Regions from separate parts of the Homo sapiens genome. Here region 1 is linked to region 2. A link means that fine-mapping ties the variant in region 2 to the expression of a gene that starts in the linked region. Tissue or cell type: whole blood. Region 2 holds a variant in brackets; the other region holds the start of a gene. All regions are shown on one strand. Distances are between the middles of the regions.

Region 1 (9,698 bases), 140 kb before region 2:
ACAAGGATCACCTCCACTACACAACCTTCCCAGTGGAGAAATCAATATCAATACATTGTCCAACCCATAGACCCCACCCAAGCTTCACCAACTGTGCCCACACTTCTTTTCCCATGTCTGGGACCTCCCAGGAACATGCATTGCATGGAGTTGTTATGTCTCTTCAGTCTCATATAATCTGGAACAATTCTTAGTCTTATCCTGTCTCTTATGACAATTTATTTATTTGAGAAGGGGTTTCCCTCTGTCACTCAGGCTAGAGTGCAGTGGTGCAATCATAGCTCACTGCAGCCTTGAATTCCTGGGCTCAAGCAATACTCTTGCCTCAGCCTTAGTAGCTGGGACTACAGGCTCGTGCCACCATGCCAGGGCAATTTTTAAGATTTTTTTTTGTAAAGATGGAGTCTTACTACATTGCCCAGGCTGGTCTCGAACTCCCAGCCTCAAGTGATCCTTCTGCCTCAGTCTCCCAAAGCGTGAGCCACTGTTCCTGGCTCATGACAGTAATAAAGAAAACAGAATGGCCTTCCTTCTGGGTCTATCTGATATTCCCTAGGCTAGACTGAGGCTGTGGTTTCTGGCAGAAAAGTGTCAGGCGTGCTGCTGTGCTCTTCTCAGCACAGTGCACGGGGACTCAGTTTCAACTTTTCTCCACTGGTGACAGGTGTCTCATTACCTGGCCACGCTGGTGTCTGCTGGTGTTTCCCACCAGAAAGTCTCAATTTTCCTCTTTGTAATGGAAAAGTATGCTGAAGAAAGATGTCCATTCTCATTCCTCATCAAATCTCCACCTACCACCCTGAGCCTCCATTGATAGCTCACTCCTGCAACAACCCCACTACAGTGATTGGTAAATGGTTATTTCCATTCTCACTCCTGCAACAACCCCACTACAGTGATTGGTAAATGGTTATTTCCATTCTCATAATTCCTTCTCCATTTATGAGTTCACATTCTACTGTAAAGAAGAACCTCCCCTTCTCCACTATTATTTTCCCTGCATTCATCACTGGTTTGTTGATCTACATCAGTGTGGACTCAACTCATGCGTTTCTATTTTGCTCACTCAGTGGTAATCTGCCAATATCATTCTTTGTTTTGTTGCTCAAATTGTCCTAGATTTCGCCAGCAAGAACTCCCTCCAACTACTTTCCATGTCCTTTGATCTCCTGTCAATCTTTGAGCACTTCTTCACTTCCTTGAACAACAAAATTATTCCAGGATCATCTTGTACTTCCACTCCAGCCCTGAAATTAACCATTTCTCCAAAGAGCCCTGATTCCTTTTGTTGGAAAACCTTATTTAGAAGATAAGATCTGGGGGCTAGCTGTGATCACTGGTACTGGGGTACCATTGCATCTAGATACTCAGCAGACAGAACTAGAAACTATTTCTGTGTTTATATGCACATATACCTACACATGTGTGCACACACATACAGCTATCTTTATATCTATCTGTATATACATATTTTAAAAAAATGAGTTCATACTACCACTTCCAGTTCCAATCCAATCCCTCAGTGTTCTTTTTAGCCTTCCCTCTTCCATGTTTTTACCTTCTCCAACAGCAAGAAACCTGGCTTTCACTGTCCCCAGTATATTTAATTTGCTGGTATAACCTCCAAATTGAAGAGATGCAGAGCACGTGCTCCCACCCTCCATAACGAGACGTATTTAGAGGTGTGGGGGAGGACCCAAAAGCAGGAAGAGTTGAACCTAAGCACAAGATAGCACTTTCCTCTGAAACCAGGAAGGCTGGAACTTCGCAGCTGTGCACCGGAGCACTCGGAATGACACTCCAGAGAAAGCAGCACTTCTCCTTGTCTACAAGAAGGAAAGGATGGAGGGGTCATGAAAGGTCACAGGAGATTGAGGGGTATAATATTAGCAAAAATCTAAGAGCCGAGCTGGACCTGCAGTCAGACCAGACACCTGTAAGACTGAGCTGTGGCAGAGCCTTAGGATCTGCTTTCTGCAGGCAATTAACCACAGGGAGGGGCTGGAAACCCGGGGCTCACACAGAGGGAAGCTGAGGACACTTGGGCTGACTGGTATGCAACATGGAAACTTCTCTTCAATCTAGTTTACATCCTTGGGTCAACCACTGGATGGCACATGGCACAGGATTTTTTTTTTTTTCTTGAGACGTAGTCTTGCTCTGTCGCCCAGGCTGGAGTGCAGTGGTGCGATCTCGACTCACTGCAACCTCCGCCTCCCGGGTTCAAGTAATTCTCCTGCCTCAGCCTCCCGAGTAGCTGGGACTCCAGGTGCGCGCCGCCATGCGCGGCTAATTTTTTGTTATTTTTAGTAGAGACGGGGTTTCACCATGTTGGCCAGGATGGTCTTGATCTCCTGACCTCGTGATCTGCCCTCCTCGGCCTCCCAAAGTGCTGGGATTACAGAATTTTTTACGTGGCTTATGTTTATGCAAGTCTTTGTAGGATGTGATCCTACAATTTTCCAGTAGAGGAAAGCTGCAAAAGAAAGGCTCAGGCTCCTTTCTGTGTCAACAAAGCAATTACTTGCTTTTGTGTTGAGGCTTAGTTTTGAATGAAAGGTGGTGTTAGGAGCATTAACCGGTTGCATATTTACAATCTACATAATATAATTTGTTGCTGCAGCAAACCAGGGACTGTGAAGAGTAAGAAAAGGGAAACCACTTCCATTCCTTGCTTGGGGTTTACTGCCCTTGCCTGGAGTTGAGAGTTTAGACTCTGCAATGTTTTACATATGTGATATAATCTCCACATACATATGCACACAAAATTATGAAGACGCAGGAACGAGGGGAGACAGATTCCTATGTAAAGGTGACCCTGCTTCTTCTGGGCATTTGTTTATTCATTCAGTACCTGCCAGTGCCCTACTCTGTTACAAATTCAGTAAAAATTTCCTTGGAATTCACTGAATATGCTCAAAAACAGTCAAGTAGGATGTTCTTTGCTACTGTTTGGCTTGGAGTTTCCTTGAAAGAAACTACAGAACAAATATAATTAACTCGATTGAATTCACTGGAAAGTAAAGTGATCAATAGTTGTGTTTTTGAGTTAACTGAAAAGTGACCTCAGGAATCACAGGAAAGGCCCAAAATTAGTCGTTTGAAACAGCTATTCATAGTTGGCCACAATATTAACACCTTCGGCGAAGCTGCGTGGTGCCCGGGGTGGAGTTCCCGAGTGTCAACAGCGTCCCTTGGGCGCTTGCGGTGGTCTTTGCCCGGCACTACCAGACCCCTCAGGGAGGACTTTTGGGATTAAAGGCATCTTAAAAGCCAACTGAACTGTGTGAGAGTTGTCAAGGTCACAACGGAGTCGTTTGTGTTTAAAACCCTGACAAGCAGGGTGGGAAGGGCCCCAGAGGCAGCGTTCTCACGCCGGAATGCCCGATAACAAGACCGTCCCGAGAGACTCCGCAAAAGCCACAACCTTGCACACTGGCTAGGCAACCTCACACCGAAAAATACCGGAGGACTCCCGCCAGCGGCGCCCGTCCGACCTCCGGCGGGCGGCGCCCTCTCACCCGTCCTCCTGGCCGCAAAATGACCGCAAACAGGGACGCCGCCCTCTCATCCCACCGCCACCCCGGCTGCGCTCAGCGGCCGCGCACCCCCACGTTTGCCAGCAGCTCCCAGAGGCGGTCAGCCTTTGGGTTTGACGACGGCAACTTCCCGGGCCTCGGCGAGCGCAGCCACGCACCCGGAAGCCGCCTCGGGGCGCGACGCCGAGCCAAAACCGCCCGCGGGCTCCGAGGCCACAGGCAAGTGGGGAGGGTGCCCCGTGGGGCTCGAGGGGACGCAGGCACGCCCAGCCCACGCACCGAGCACTCTCCTTTCCCGTCCCCGGCTCCCGCCAGCCGAGACACAACGCTCGCGTGATGACGTCGTGCGCCTGCCCGGCCCACTCCAGTAGTCTCCGACCCGGCCCACGGCCCGCCCCGCGCGATGACGTCAGTATCCACCCCGCCCGCTCCCGGTGACGTGCCAGCCCCAGGCCCACGCCGCTCCCGCCCCGCGTGATGACGCCACCGTCCCGGGCGGAGGCGGGCGTGCGGCGGAGCCGCGTCCCCTCAGAGGGGCGCTGGCGCGGGGCTGAGCCGCCCGGGATCAGCGCGAGCACCCAGCCCGCCTCGGCCGGGAGGGCAGCGCGGCACTGCGGGGCGATGAGCGGCGCCCGGGGCGAGGGCCCGGAGGCGGGCGCCGGCGGGGCTGGGGGCCGCGCGGCGCCTGAGAACCCCGGGGGCGTGCTGAGCGTGGAGCTGCCCGGGCTGCTGGCGCAGCTGGCGCGGAGCTTCGCGCTGCTGCTGCCCGTGTACGCGCTGGGCTACCTGGGGCTCAGCTTCAGCTGGGTTCTCCTCGCGCTCGCGCTGCTCGCCTGGTGTCGCCGCAGCCGCGGCCTCAAGGCCCTGCGCCTGTGCCGCGCGCTGGCGCTGCTGGAAGACGAGGAGCGCGTCGTGCGCCTGGGGGTGCGCGCCTGCGACCTGCCCGCCTGGGTGAGTGCAGACCCCTGCCCGTCCCGACCCCTGACCACCAGTCCCGATCTCCCCTCGTCCAGGCAGGCACTCCCCTCCCCGCGACCTGCCGCCTGGGTGAGTGCAGACCCCAGCCCTGCCCCGGCTCCCGCCTTCGTAGTCCCCCACCCACCCCGGTCCAGGCAGGCGCTTCCCTTCCGCCTGGGCGAGTGCAGACCCCAGCCCCGGCCCCCGGGCCGGTTCCTGCGACCTGCCAACCTAGGTGAGTGCAGACCCCGCCCCGCCCCCCGGCCCCGACTCCCAGCCTGCTGGCGACCTGCCCGCTAGGGCGAGTGCAGACCCCAGCCCCGCCCCGGCCTCCGGCCCACTCCCTGCGAACCTGTCCGCCTGGGGCCGCCGCCCGCTGCTCGCCGCTCCCGCCCTAGTCCTGAGTGCTCCGTGCCCTCCCTCCGTCCAAGTCGGGCGTCCCCTTCTCCGCTTCCCCGCCCGCCCAGGCTCCGGGTCCGGGGCGCGTCTGCCCTCGTGAAGCCTCCCCTCGCCGTCCCGCGCGGCTTTCTCGGAGACCCCTCTTCACAAAGCCCGCTTCCCTCCCCCGGCCTGCAGACCCCGAGCGCCAGCGGCAGGTACCGGGCTTGGCGCCCCCTCTTCGGCCGCGGCCCTGCCCGGAGCGCGCGCTTCCTCCTGGTGCCGCCCGCGGGGTCTCCTTAGGGGCCTGAGCGGCCGGTTCTGCTCTCAGAGCGCCCAGCGCGATTCTCGTGCGCATTCCCAAAGCCCTGCCGGCCTGGAAATGCTCCGGGTGGCTTCAGCTTTTCCTTCTCTCTGTTTTTTAAAAAACGTAATGACAGCTGGTGGGGGAGAAGTTAACTTTTTCTTCTACCGGGAGAAGACGCACTCGTGTCTTGGTTGTTTCTGACGCATTTCAAGGGCAGTAAGTGTCTCTCGAAAGATGTGGAGATATTAGATAATTGAAAGATTGTTTCAGTTTTTTTGCAAGTATAATTGTGAGACTGAGCATTTTTATATGGGATCGACCTGAATCCAGTGTGAATGTGTGTGTGTGTGGCAGGAAGTTTTGGAAGAGTTGCAGCAATAACAAGAGTCATGGTATTATTTTATTTTTAACCCGGCAGTTCTCTACCTCGTATATTTATGGACTATAGACACGAAGAGTTGGCTTCAAATCTTTTTCTTGTCATTCCCTAATTCTTTCTTAGCCATGACTTGGCTTCACAGTTTCACACTGCAAGAAAGGATTTTAATGATTCTTCCATTAGGCTTAATATAAACTTTGGGGTGAAGGTGACCAGCAGTGGGTTTCGGAAGGGTCATTTTCTCTTAGAGGAGAAAAGTCCCTGTTTCCAGTCATGAGACACCTGAGAAGTAAGGCATGACACAGATGGCAAACAAGAATTAGAAAGGAGGCGTGCCCAAGACAAGAAGAAGGTAGTAGATGCTACTTTGTGACGTCATATTGCAACTGGAGTAAGAATATAATGTAAGGAGCTTGGGAATGTACAGTTCTGCCGATGCGTGGTGAGCATGAGGGAGTCATATTTGGAGAACCAAGGTAACTGGCATGGTGCAGCTTTTAGCTAGCGGCGGGAAAAACCGAGGGGTGTGTAGAAAAAGGAAGTTAAGAGGAACCGAGGTGGGGAAAACTAAGAACAGAGGAGGTGCACTTTGGAAATGGAAAAGGACTTTAAAGTGACGTTTTGTGTCTATATTACACTAAGATGCATAATACTAAAAAGTAGCTAAAAACAGAGTCCATTAGCATCCATTGCTATGTTATATTGATAACATAGCAATGTTATCAGTGCTGAAATTTGCAGGAAGTGATGATGCTGACTTTCATAGATACTTGGTTATTGGCTAATATCAAATTTGCTTGTTAAAAATCTTTGTGAAACACAGATTTTCTTTTTCTTTTCTTTTTTTTTTTTTTTTGAGACAGAGCCTCTCCCTGTTGCCCAGGCTGGAGTGCAATGGCGTGATCTCGGCTCACTACAACCTCCGCCTCCAGGGTTCAAAAGATTCTCCTGCCTCAGCCTCCCGAGTAGCTGGGATTACAGGCGTGCACCATCACGCCCAGCTAATCTTTGTATTTTTAGTAGAAACAGGGTTTCACCATGTTGGCCAGGCTGGTCTCAAACTCCTGACCTTGTGTTCCGCCTGCCTTGGCCTCCCCAAGTGCAGGGATTACAGGCGTGAGCCACCGCGCCCGGCCACACAGACTGTACAGATGAAATTGCTGCCCTATTGAAGAACTGAAATTTTTTTTTTTTTTTTTGAGACGGAATCTCGCTCTGTTGCCAGGCTGAAGTGCAGTGGCACCATCTCAACTCACTGCAACCTCCGCCTCCCGGGTTCAAGCCATTCTCCTGCCTCAGCCTCCCGAATAGCTGGGACTACAGGCGCACACCACCACACCCAGTTAATTTTTGTATTTTTAGTAGAGACTGGGTTTCACCATGTTGGCCAGGATGGTCTCGATCTCTTGACCTCGTGATCCACCCGCCTCAGCCTCCTAAAGTGCTGGGATTACAGGTGTGAGCCACTGCGCCCAGCCTGAAATTCTTTAAAAAAAAAAAAAATACAAAAGTAATTTAGCCAAAGATTCTTTTCAAGTTTTTAATCTGTGTGACTTAAACTGATGAACTGTGGTGTTCACCTCATGAAGAATTTATATTTTCTCCAGAATGTTTTACTTGTTTATTCCAAATTTGTACTTGAGCTCATAATCCCACATGTGTAAACTTCAGTGTGCCTAGGATGCTTAAGACGCTTCTTGAAGGATTCACATGAAACTTGACAGTGATTATGTTGACAGTTTTAGAGAGATTTTAAAAATATCTTTTAAATTATACTTATGTATCTATTTTGTGATATTTATTAAAAGTGTAATATACTTTATTTTCATAATAAAACCAGCAGGTTGCATGGTCTCGAAGTGTGCCTGAAATTCTGCTGCGCGGCAGGGGTGGTGGGGGTGGTCAAAGCACATCAATAATAGAAGAAACTATGAATAAGAAAAGTTAAGATTTCAGTATTACTTGCACTTTGGGTTTGTTTTTGTTTTTTTTTTTTTCTAGAGATGAGTTCTTACCGCGTTGTCCAGGCTGGTCTCAAACTTTTGGCCTCGAGGCATCCTCCCACTTAGACTTCCTAAAGTGTGGGGATTACAGGTGTGAGCCACCATGCCTGGCCAATATTACTAGTACCTTGATTTTTACCATACATACATTGGTGCTTGGGGTTTCTGAACTTTGGACTGGTATTTTGCCTTGAACAAGATGTATCTGTACATCCCAAAGGCTGTACTTGTTTTCATAGTGTGTCGTTGACAACCGTGAATTCATGGCAGAGTGGAAACATAGGAAAACATGAATTAAGGAGATACTAATTTCCTCACCTCACCTTTGTATATATTCACTGACAGCTTTTCTTCTTACTGAGTAAAAACTGAAGCTGGATATGGAAATGAGATAAGAGTATTAATACTTTGAGAAACTATATGTACTGTTCCTGATTGAGGCTATTAGGATGTGACAGATGGCTCTCACTTAACTGTGATAATTCTGTAAGTTTGGTCCTACAGCTTTAATATAAACAGTGTTGTTATTCTTCACTTCTTTTCCCATGAACAGTTATGTTCCAACTGCTTAGGGGAAAGGCCTGGCAGGCTGGATGAATTGAGGACAGGGCTTTTTGTTGTTTAAGTGTCTACCCTGTGGTAATGGGCCCTGGACCATTAGACTACCCTGGGTGAAGAAGAGAAGATTTATTTATTTATTATTTCATTTATTTATTTATTTTTGAGACGGAGTCTCACTCTGTTGCCCAGGATGAAGGGCAGTGGCATGGTCTCGGCTCACCGCAACCTCTGCCTCCCGGGTTTAAGCGACTCTCCTGCCTCAGCCTCCCAAGTAGCTGGGAGTACAGGCGCCCGTCACCACGTCTGGCTAATTTTTGTGTTTTTAGTAGAGACAGGGTTTCACCATGTTGGCCAGGCTGGTCTCAAACTCCTGACCTCAGGTGATCCACCAGCCTTGGCCTCCCAAAGTGCTGGGATTACAGGCATGAACCACCGCGCCCAGCCTTTTTTGTTTTTTAAAGAGAGGCGGTTCTCGCTGTGTTCCCCAGGCTTGAACTCTTGGGCTCAACTCTTGGGCTCAAGCGAACCACCTACGTGAGTCTCCCAAGTAGCTGGGATTACAGTTGCATGCCACCATGCTCAGGGCTGTGAGGAAGATTCTTGAAGAGTTTTTATAGAGATTAATAAGGGCAATTTTTCATTACTATTTTTATTTATTTGAAAATATTATCTCTTCATAGGATAAAGTCTGACTCTATCCTGCTTTTACTATTGCCAATAAATGCTGATTGTATGGCTGCTATGGATAATACTGTCACGGATAATACTACTTAACTGTTCTGACAGTTGGTCTTTTATTACCCTCATACTTGGATTATTGAGAATTAAAGCATATTAGCTTCCTTGGTTATGTTGTTCTGTACTTTTGTATACAAACTTTCTCTGGGGAGAGCTTTCTTCCCATTGCCCTTCTGGGAAGTTCAGGAAAATTTAACTCTAGCAAAAATATGGTATGTATAGTCTAAGAACTAAATGAACAGAAGAAAATAATGCACTGTGATCTCATGTAAAGAAAGGGCAAATATTTTTTTATTCTCAGTGTTAATCATTGACTTAATACTTTAATAAAATATTGTGAAGACTTGTAACTGAAAATAGTTGGCATAGCTAATTCAGGAGCCACAATTTAGCTATTTTAAACAAGTGCTTCTTCAGCACCTGAATCCGAGTGGTCATGTGGTTGAGGAAGTGTTGGAGTCCTCATCGTAGCTGCAGATAGGATGAGGATGCTGCTTGGGTTTCTTGTTCACACCCACACTGCGGCTGAGACACAGAAGGGAAAGGATGTGACCGTTGTTGCTTCAGTTCTGTGGTCTGAGAACCTCCTTCAGTTAGAACATTAATGCCCCAAGATGGCTAAAAATAAAGCAGTAAATATCAGGTTTTTAGTTTAAGCTAAAAAATAGATTTAAATTTAGGATATATGCAATCCATCAGCCTGTATGTTGTGGATTTAGTAAAATTTCTACTTAAGATTAATATTATTATCATTCTACATTTAAGGATGGGAGGGTATAGAGCTAGGACTGAAATATAAATAGTTTATATGGATATATACACTTAAAACATAATAT
Region 2 (9,698 bases):
CAGTAGACCTGTCTTGGCTCTGGTGTTAACAGAGATACCATTGGTGTTGTTACACTGAGGTTTGGTTAGCCTCAGCATCTGCCTTTCTAAAATTGGTGATACGATTTCTCTGAGACTTCCAGTTCCAAAAATCTCTTTTCTATTATGTCTGTTGAGGGTCTTTTTATAACAATCGTCAAACAGTTTTTTAATTAACATTATTTGCATTTTATAACTAATGTATATAAATCTTTGGCAAGTTAAACATAACTAATATTATTTGCTTAGCAAAGCTTTAAATAATATATAAAGTCATGATACTCTAAACTGTTGACTCTGAAGTAATAAGAATTTGCCTTACTAATTGGAAAATTACTGTGCTGTATTTTAGGTATTTTATATGCATTACCTGAGTCTGAACGAAAACTACAGAGTTCTATTCAGGATTTGTGTGTTACCTGGTGGGAGAAAGGCCTGCCTGCCAAGGAAGACACAGGAAAGACAGCCTTTGTCATGTTACTAAGGAGGAGTCTGGAGACTAAGACAGTATGCTCACTTTTTATTTTTTTAAAGACAGGGTCTCTCTCTATTGCCCAGATGGAGTGCAGTGGCATGATCATAGCTCACTGCAGCCTCAAACTCCTGGGCTCGAGCAATCCTCCTGCCTCAGCCTCTCAAGTAGCTGAGACTTCAGGAGTGCACCACCTAGCTAGGACTTTATTTTTAAACGTCTTCCTAACATTCTAAACCTGCGCTATTCAACGTAGTAGCCACTTGCCACAGAAAGCTGTTTAAATTTAAAGTTAAAAATAATGAAAAATTCAGTTCCTCAGTTGCATTAGTCACATTTTAGTAGCTCTACAGTGAAATGTGGCTAATGTCTACTGCACTAGACAGTTCAGATGTATAAAATCTTCATCATCGAGGAAGTTCTTAAACTTGCTGGATTTTTAATTATTTTCCTTATGTTTTAAAAAAATGTTCTGTAGAGCTATAGGGGGCATTTGCAAATTTTAAAATCTGTTTTTATTTGTCGTTATTTTTTAATCTTTGATGAATCAACTAGAATTACCATTATTTATGATATAAAATATACTTGATTTGAAATATGACTTTACTGTTCATTGAAAAAGGTATCACATTTTTTGTGTCATTCCTAGGGTGCAGACGTATGTCGGCTTTGGCGTATCCATCAAGCTTTATATTGCTTTGATTATGATTTGGAGGAAAGTGGAGAAATTAAAGATATGTTACTTGAGTGCTTCATAAATATTAATTATATCAAGAAAGAAGAGGTAAATAGGTATTTGTTTTTTGATCTGTTTGTGAGCTGCTTCTTAATAGATGTTTCTCCTGTGTTCACATGGTTCCTGTCTGCACCATGCTCGGTGTTGCTTAGCTACCAGGAGCTATTTACTGCACATGATTTTTACTGCATGGCAGTACTAGAGAAGACATTTTACAAGTCCTTGCTTATTTCATCATTAAATTGGATGGTAACAGGTGGCTGTGTGTTACCTAGGGGAACCGTAATTACATTTTAAATTAAGAATGATTAAAAATAAGGTTGAGAAAGCACTTCTCTATGAATGAGATCTGGCCTTCTGCCCTAATTCCATTTTAATTGCCATGTACTCAAAACTGTCATCCCATAATATCCTCCCTTTCTTTTTTCTACCCATCCTGTAAATCCAGAGAGGCTTCTGGCCTGTTGCTGCACTGCCCGTCCTGGGGTCAACTCCCATATGAGGCTACTGAGCACCTGAAATGGGACCCAACTGAACTGAGATTAGCCATAAGTATAAAATACACATGGATTTGAAGATTTAGTGGGAAAGAAATGAACATAAAATAGCTCATTAATAATTTTTGTTCTATACTTAATATAATAGACAATATTTTTATTGTCTGTTATATTAAATATTGCTTTACATAAAATATATTATTAAAATTAATCTTCTTTACTTTTGTTAACATGACTACTAAAGAATTGAGAATTACAGAGAGGCTCGCATAGTTCTTCTGTGTTAGGGGCCTTCTGCAGTTGTTTACTGAGCGTCGACTACATGCTCAGGCAGTGCCAGGGGAGACTAGAACAAGCTTTTGCATTTGGATGCTCATGGCTCAGCAGGCACATCTCTGAGGCAGAAGGAGGAAGTCATCCCTCCTCCCTGAAGGAGGTGGAGAAGGGCTTCAGAGGAAGAGGAGGACCAGCTCTGAGGTACAGAATAAGTTTCCTCCAGGTGTCACAGCTGCTCAGCGGCAGAGACAGAACTGGACCCCGGCGAGCCATCTGCAGTCTGCTAGACAAAGGGCCATGTGATTAGGACTGAGACCTTTGGCTCCCAGGGTCTTTGTTCACTTTATAGGTGGTGCCCTTGGTCAGGCCTTTCAGCCTCAGAGTTTTGTTCTGTAAAATAGGAGCAACAGTTACTGTTTCACAGGATTGTTGTTAGGAACAGATGAGGTAATATGTATCAAACCGCAGCCCAGGCGCTGGTGGATAAGAACCCCTGGGGAGGGCTGCCCTTTGCCATCCTTGCTGTGTCAGCACCATCGTTATTACAAAGATGTTGGACACAGCCTGTGCCCCACACATGTCTCCAGGATTGTTCTGAAATGGGAGAGTGAAGAAATTAATGATGGATTCAAACAATAAACTATTTTATGTTGACTTATACATAAGGAGTTGATGAATCGTACTTGTTAACTTATATATGTGTGCAGATATATAACAGACATAAATGTATGTATGTGTTATAACCTCTACCCTTTTTAAAAAATTGATGTCTCCTTTGAATTTAAGATATCTAAATGTAGTTTCCTAATCAATCATTAATTTGGTCAGGTCAGTTTCCAGTCATTCTGGGTAAACCATAAACATCTTGTACTGTACTAACAGATTACTTCCAGTGAATATTACTGTTTTTTTTTTTAACTTGCCTGTTGTGAGCATGGTTACCCTGCATTTGAATCAAAATGTATTGCATTTCTGTAGGATTCCAGTTCTGTGCAGTGGTGTGCTGGTAAGAGATGAAGGTGCTATTCACTGAGAGAGTTCTAGATAGATGCATCTTATGCACTCTATAGAGTATGAAGATTGTATTCATTCTTCTTAGGTTCAGATACATAATCTAGTAGCATGCATATAAATTATCATCACATGATGTATTTATGACTTGAAGACTGTGTATTTGGAAATTCTAGCTTGACAAACACTTAGCCTTTTAACTATATGAGTCCTCAGTTTTCTCATCTATAAATGAGAAGGTGAAATGAACTGGGATATTCAACTCCATTCCCACCCACCTATGCTAGATTTAAAGCTTTCTTTCATTTGAGACTATGGAACCATCCATGACAGAGCCAGAATGAGATGTTTATGGACCCATGGTTACTGTCTGTGGTCTCCATCTCTGCACCTGTGGCCCTTGAGGACAGAGGCGCTCAGTGTAGCGGCTGCTCGGCCCTGGGGGAGGTGGCTTGTGTGGCTCCTGGCTGTGCAGGCCCCGCAGACAGCTCAACTCGTGCATGTGCTCTCAGTGATAATTACATGTGCCTCGTTTTTAGCAATAGCAATGTTTAGCTTACTAGACGTTCAAATAATTGTTTGTTATTTGGCACTTTTTATTTGGTTGCAATGTAAACATTCTATCCTTTTTTATTTCTAGGGAAGAAGATTTCTTAGTTGTCTCTTCAACTGGAATATCAACTTCATCAAAATGATCCACGGGACCATTAAAAACCAGTTACAGGGATTACAAAAGTAAGTGTTAAAAGTACTGAAGATTTTGTGCTGTCTTAATCTGGTTTTGAAAGATTCCATTTGGTCTGACTTCTTAAGTTATAGTAATGGATTAGAAGCTTTAGAAATACGTTATTTATTATGTACCATTGGATCACTGGGTAGCTTTTTCCTTTTATAGGAAATCATTCTTTTCCAGTATTGACCACTGAAATTAAGGTTTTAATTTGTGGTAGTTCTTTAAATAGTTAAAATAGTTTCCAGTTGAACCTTAGCCTCGCTCGTAATAAAGCCATGTCCATGGTACTTTGAATGCAATGTGTGCTTTTTGGTTGAACGTGGCCTGGCCAGGGTGGCTTCTCGGAAGAGCCTGTGGAATCTGCAGGAGCAGCAGGGAACGTTGCAGTCATGACTCTGCCACTCCCTGCGTGATGGAGATGTCAAGTGTGTGCTTGTCGTTTGCCAGGCACAAGGCAGAGT[A/C]CTTCATTTGCTCCAGCACTGAGTACTTAGTCTCCATTTTAAAATTTAATCCTCACAACTCTCTTTTGAGATAGGCTTTGCTTTCTAAATTTCCCAGTGTCAGGCAACTGTATAAGTACCAAGTTGGGATCTGATTCTGGATCTCTGATTGCAAAGCTCCTGTTGTATACTAGATTGCTTTTTCATATTTCCTCATCTTCAGAATATTTGAGTTGAACTAATAGATTTCTAAGCTTATGATTCTTAAGTTGATACTGGTATTTTAGGGCTTCTTGTACCTCAGGAATTGGTAGCGTGAAAAGTCCAACGTGACTCCAAGTCGACAATTTATTTATATTTAAATATTTTTGACTTTAGAATTTTGTTCTGGACTTATGCACTCATAGTTTCACAGAAAATAGTAAAGTTTTGGGTAAGCCTTGACTGAGAAGGATGAAATAGTTCGTCACTTCAGTTTCCTTTCCCAAAACCTTCTCCGTTTTCTACTTTTTGCTACAGGTAGATAACCTATTTCTATAGATGATTTGCAAAGCACTAGTTTAAACTGAGTTTCTTCTTCACTATGGTTGGAGAGTAGCTGAAATGATACATGTTGAAAGAATAATTCTTAAAATTTGCATTAAAACTATTTTGATCTTTTTATATAGGTCTTTGATGGTATACATTGCAGAAATTTATTTCAGAGCTTGGAAAAAGGCTTCAGGGAAAATACTGGAGGTATTTTCATTTTTTTAAATGTTAACACTTATTTTTATTATATTTTAGTTACTAAATAAGTAGTCAAAGAAGGGTTATTTAAGATCCATGTTTATGCACTCTGTCAAAATAAAGCCAAATAATGAAAATCTATTTGATGGGCAATCCAGTCACTTGCTAAGATGTGTGGTTTGTGGGAGGTAGGACTGTGCTCTTTCAGCTGGGAGGGAGCTCTGACCCTGATCTTTCCAGCCATGTGCTCACTGGGCATTTGGAACGTGGCCAGTCTGAATCAAGATGTGTTGTAAGTGTAAGAAACATACCAGATTTCAAAGACTTCATATGGAAATGAGAATATAAAATATCTCAGTACTTTTTAAAAATGTTGAGTGAATGTTGAAATGTTAGTGGTTTGGATGTATTAGGCGAAATGTGGTAGTTGGCCCTTTGTGGGTTTCGCATCCATGGATTCAATCAACCAAGGATCGAAAATATTTGGGAAAAAAATGCATTGTACTTAACATGTACAGACTTTTTTTTCCTTGTCATCAGTCCCTACACATATAGTGTCACAACTATTTCCATAACATTGACACTGTATTAAGTATTATAAGTAATCTAGAGATGATTTAAAGTGTGCAGGAGTGCATAGGTTATATGCAGATACTACTCCACTTTATATGAGGAATTTGAGCATCCGCAGATTCTGGTCTCTGAGGGAGGTCCTAGAACTGATCCCCCATGGATACCAAGGGATGACTGTGTAATATTGAAGTAATTTTACCTGTTTCTTTTGTCTGTTTTTAATGCAGCCACTAGAAAATTTAAAATTGCATCTGTGGCTTGCATTCAGTTTCTATTGGATAGTGCCGTTCAGGGACTTCAAGTCACCTCTTTTAGTTACATTATTTTTGAGAATTTGAAGATATTTTCTTTGATTATGGGTAACTCTGGTGAATACATAGTATTTATGTTATGAAGATAGGGCTATGTAATCCACAATCCCAACTCAACATCCAGATACCCTTTTGGACAAAAAAGTGTGTTTGTTTTCCCTTATATTTTTCTTATACCAGGTTCTCAATCATTTTATTTTTCTCTGAGAATAAAATTTTTACTCTAGGTCAGAAAGGAGCCTCTCACAACCCTGTGTTCTATCCTGACTTTTCATTCCTCTTTGGAGAGCAGGCCCTGCACTGATGGGCAGAGGGAGGAACCTGCAGAGTGGACAGAGGCTGCCCCATGTCTGGGTTTACTTCCATCCTCTCTGCTCCTCTGCACAACTTACACTTGATTTGTATTGCCAAGGTTTATCACTGACTTCTAGAAAATAAAAAATAGGCTGGGCGTGGTAGCTCACGCCTGTAATCCCAGCACTTTGGGAGGCCGAGGAGGGTGGATCACCTGAGGTCAGGAGTTTGAGACCAGCCTGGCCAACATGGCGAGACCCTGTCTCTACAGAAAAATAAACAAAATAAAAACTATTTGACTAGATGTATACAAAATTGGTATCAACAATGTGTATTTCTCAGTCTCACTCCATTCCTCTCTGCCCTCCCTCTCTTTAAGTTTTTCAGGCAAATTCCAGACCTGACATTTCATTTCTACATACTACTTTATTCATCTCTCAAAAATGTGCTTATGGAATGCCATTGTAAGACCTAAAAATGTGACAGTAAATCCTTGGTATTTTTAAAAATAATCAAGCCACATTAAAATTTTTCCAGTGATCTCAAATGTCTCCTTAGAGTTTTTTTGAATTAGGACTCAACAAGTTGCCCACATGGCATTTGCTTGTTATACCATTAAAATCGCTTATTCTAGAGCATTCCTCCCTCCTTTCCTTTTCTTAAAATCTATGCCATTGGCATGTGAGGAAACTGGACCAGTTGTCCTGTAGAATGTTGGCATACTGATAGTTAGCTCTAAAGGTTTGGATTCAACTTTTATGGTACAAATAACTTCCCAGGTAGTGCTGTGTATCTCATCTTTCATTGCAAGTCAGACAATGTGTGGTTGTCCCACATTAAGTGATGCTAAGTGACTTCAGGTGAAGGAAATATTTTCAAATATAATGGGGAAGAGGAACTTGAGCATCTGCAGACTCTGGTTTGTATTAGTATTAACCCTAGGAGCGTTTCCTTAGGTCCTTCCTCAAAGCCACAGAAATCCTGCTCATGTGTGAGGGTGGGCACAGAGTACAGGTACAGACATAGGGTCCACTGGGGTTTTTTGCTACTCTTAGAGGCTAGGCCTTTTCCCAGTTGCTGCACTCTGAGTACCATTAGTGCATGGGGCTGATGAAGGGCTTCCCACACACCTTCCTTGCTCAGCCCTTGTCAACAGTGGCCCTGAAATATCTTATTTACAGTTTCCGCCGTAGAGGTAGTTCTGTTTTTGTTCTGTGGAGGCTGTTGGAACAAATCCAGTCTTCTGAAGGTTGTCCAGGTCAGTGATGAGTCAGAAGAGGGGGCTCCACACTCACCATGCACTCAGTCTCTGAAATTTGTCTGATTTGAACTAGCCTTGAGTGGTAGGTGGAATCTTACATTGCCATTTGGCACAGATTTGATATTTCATCAAATAAAAGAGAAGCAAAGCATTCTCCTTGCTATAAGAAAACCAAAGGGATTCTAAGAAGCATGGACTTAAAATAAGAAAGCTTGGACAAAAGGGTCCAGGTTTTTTTCTCATGAAATATAAGATGGACAGGTCAGACTCTTTGTACTCAAATGCCGCACTGCTTGTCAGGTCGTCAGTAGGACACACACACACCAAGTGCTTTGCATTGCATTTGTTATTTCAGGCGATTGAAAATGATTGCATCCAGGACTTCATGTTCCACGGGATACACCTTCCGAGGAGGTCTCCAGTGCATTCCAAAGTGCGGGAGGTAAGATTGTGAACAGATTGTTTTTGAAATAATGTTTCCTCTGTTTTGTTTTTAGATAATTGTTTTGGTTAAATTTTAAAATTAAGCTTTCACAGACATCAGTTAGGGGGATTTCTCAGAACCTTGATATTTGATGTCTGGCAGTTTTATTCCTGCCACCAAAGTTTTAATGAGGAAAGCAAAGGTGTATTGTTGAGATGGTTAGTATTGTATTTGAATGACCTTAAATTCAATTCTCTGTCTTGAGATTTTCCAGAATTATTGGTTTCTAATGGCCACTATCATTTTTTTCAAAGATCCTAGAGGGTATTTGAAATTATTTTTATTATTTTACTTATTAAATTCCAATTTTGCTCTTCTGCAAACCAAATGAATAAATGTTTTGATTGTTTCTTTTGATATTTTGTTCTGTAAAGGTAATCTCAGAATTTAGATTAATCTCAGAATTTAGATATGAACTTTACCTTTATATTAATAATTGTAAATGGACTGACTAGATAAGATTCTATCATCAGTGCCATTACTACACTGATAGGTGTTTGATGGATCTTAAGGATCCTGGCAGGAGGAATGGGAAAATCTGGTCTGCTGTGTTTATTTAAATTAAGCAGCTGCTGTTGATCAGTGTTCTAACCCATGGGATGCCTTGTTTGCTTGCTGTTAGTTTTGGCAACCATATGTCAAGAAACCAAGTGAATAAAGACTACTCATTTCTTTGTTTTGTTGTAGAGTGAAACTACTGCTATTTATAGAATGTAAATATACTAATTATATTAATTTTGAGTGGATAAGAAAATGTTTCTTTGCATTATTGATGATTTAATTTCAGTTACACAAGGATAAAGAACCCAGAGATTTATCTAGACTACTGAGTTTTCCAGAGGATTTAAAAATCGTGATTGCATATATTTAGGATAAATATATTCAATGAACTCCCTGTCCTACCCACCCCCCACCCCCATCCCAGTGTGGCTTTATTTAGTTGTAGTCAGTTTGGGTTATTTATTTCACATAGATGAGTTGGTGTTTCAAATTTTATTTAGTAGAATTGCATTAAACTATGTATTTATGTAAACTATGTTTATGTAAACTATATGTGTAGTTTATATGTAAACTATGTATGTTTTCATATGTTATTTTTGCTGTGGTAGTCTGAGTAATTAAGATATTATAAGTATAGATATCACTATTTGGTAAATTTATGGAAAAATGCACAAAAAGAATTTAAAGGGAGAATATTAGATTTCACTCAAGTGAAACGTGTTACTCAACTCCAAGTAATTGTTTTTGTCACAACTTATAACACATTATAGTTTCTTCCTCAAATTGTTTTTATTTGATAACTATTAAATTTATCTGATAAGTCATTTTATTGATATTGAAAGAGGTTTCAGGCAGTGCTTCAGACATCATTTGAAATTAAAAATCTCAACATTGTTGATGAAAATGTTCTAGAATTAGACAGTAACAATGGTAGCATAGCTCTAAATATACTGAAAGCCACTGAATTGTATACTTTAAAACAGTAGATTTTGTGGCATGTGAATTAAGTCTTAAGCTGTTTAGAAAATTTTTCTATGAAGCAAGTGTACTGTTGATATCAAAGTTTGATAGTATTGTACACAAAAAGCAAACTATAGACTAATGTCACTTATCACCATCAATACAAACTACAAAATAATAATCAGAAAAAAATAATCCCCATACTGCAGCTCTTCTAGGGTTAAGTTGATACAAGCTCACTTAAAGTGTAGGCTGTTCTTTTACAGCCTGTTTAATCTTTCAAAATTTTCATGTTTCACTAATAAAGTTTAGCCCCAAAAGGTGTGAATAGAGAAGTAAGGCAAAATTAATTGTTGTTAGGGACATGAGGCTACAAAGAATTTTGGGAAGATTCTGACTGGA

Evidence for each region.
Region 1: ESYT2 starts here. The variant in region 2 is fine-mapped to the expression of ESYT2 in whole blood (INTERVAL, PIP above 0.99).

The regions. Positions count from the first base shown.
Region 1 is chr7:158,823,881-158,833,578 of GRCh38, reverse strand. It overlaps ESYT2 (extended synaptotagmin 2), which reads left to right and starts at 4,070. Exons shown (of 23, transcript NM_001367773.1): 1 at 4,070-4,490. The coding sequence starts at 4,161. RefSeq lists enhancers at 3,107-3,216, 5,227-5,296 and silencers at 3,527-4,256, 4,347-4,446, 4,497-4,686, 4,777-4,826, 4,907-5,106.
Region 2 is chr7:158,681,395-158,691,092 of GRCh38, reverse strand. It overlaps NCAPG2 (non-SMC condensin II complex subunit G2), which reads left to right. Exons shown (of 28, transcript NM_017760.7): 5 at 371-525; 6 at 1,140-1,274; 7 at 3,651-3,745; 8 at 4,852-4,921; 9 at 7,707-7,793. Among named protein-coding and RNA genes, the nearest start is that of NCAPG2, 19 kb to the left of the region's middle. The variant A/C (reference allele first, on the strand shown) is at 4,205.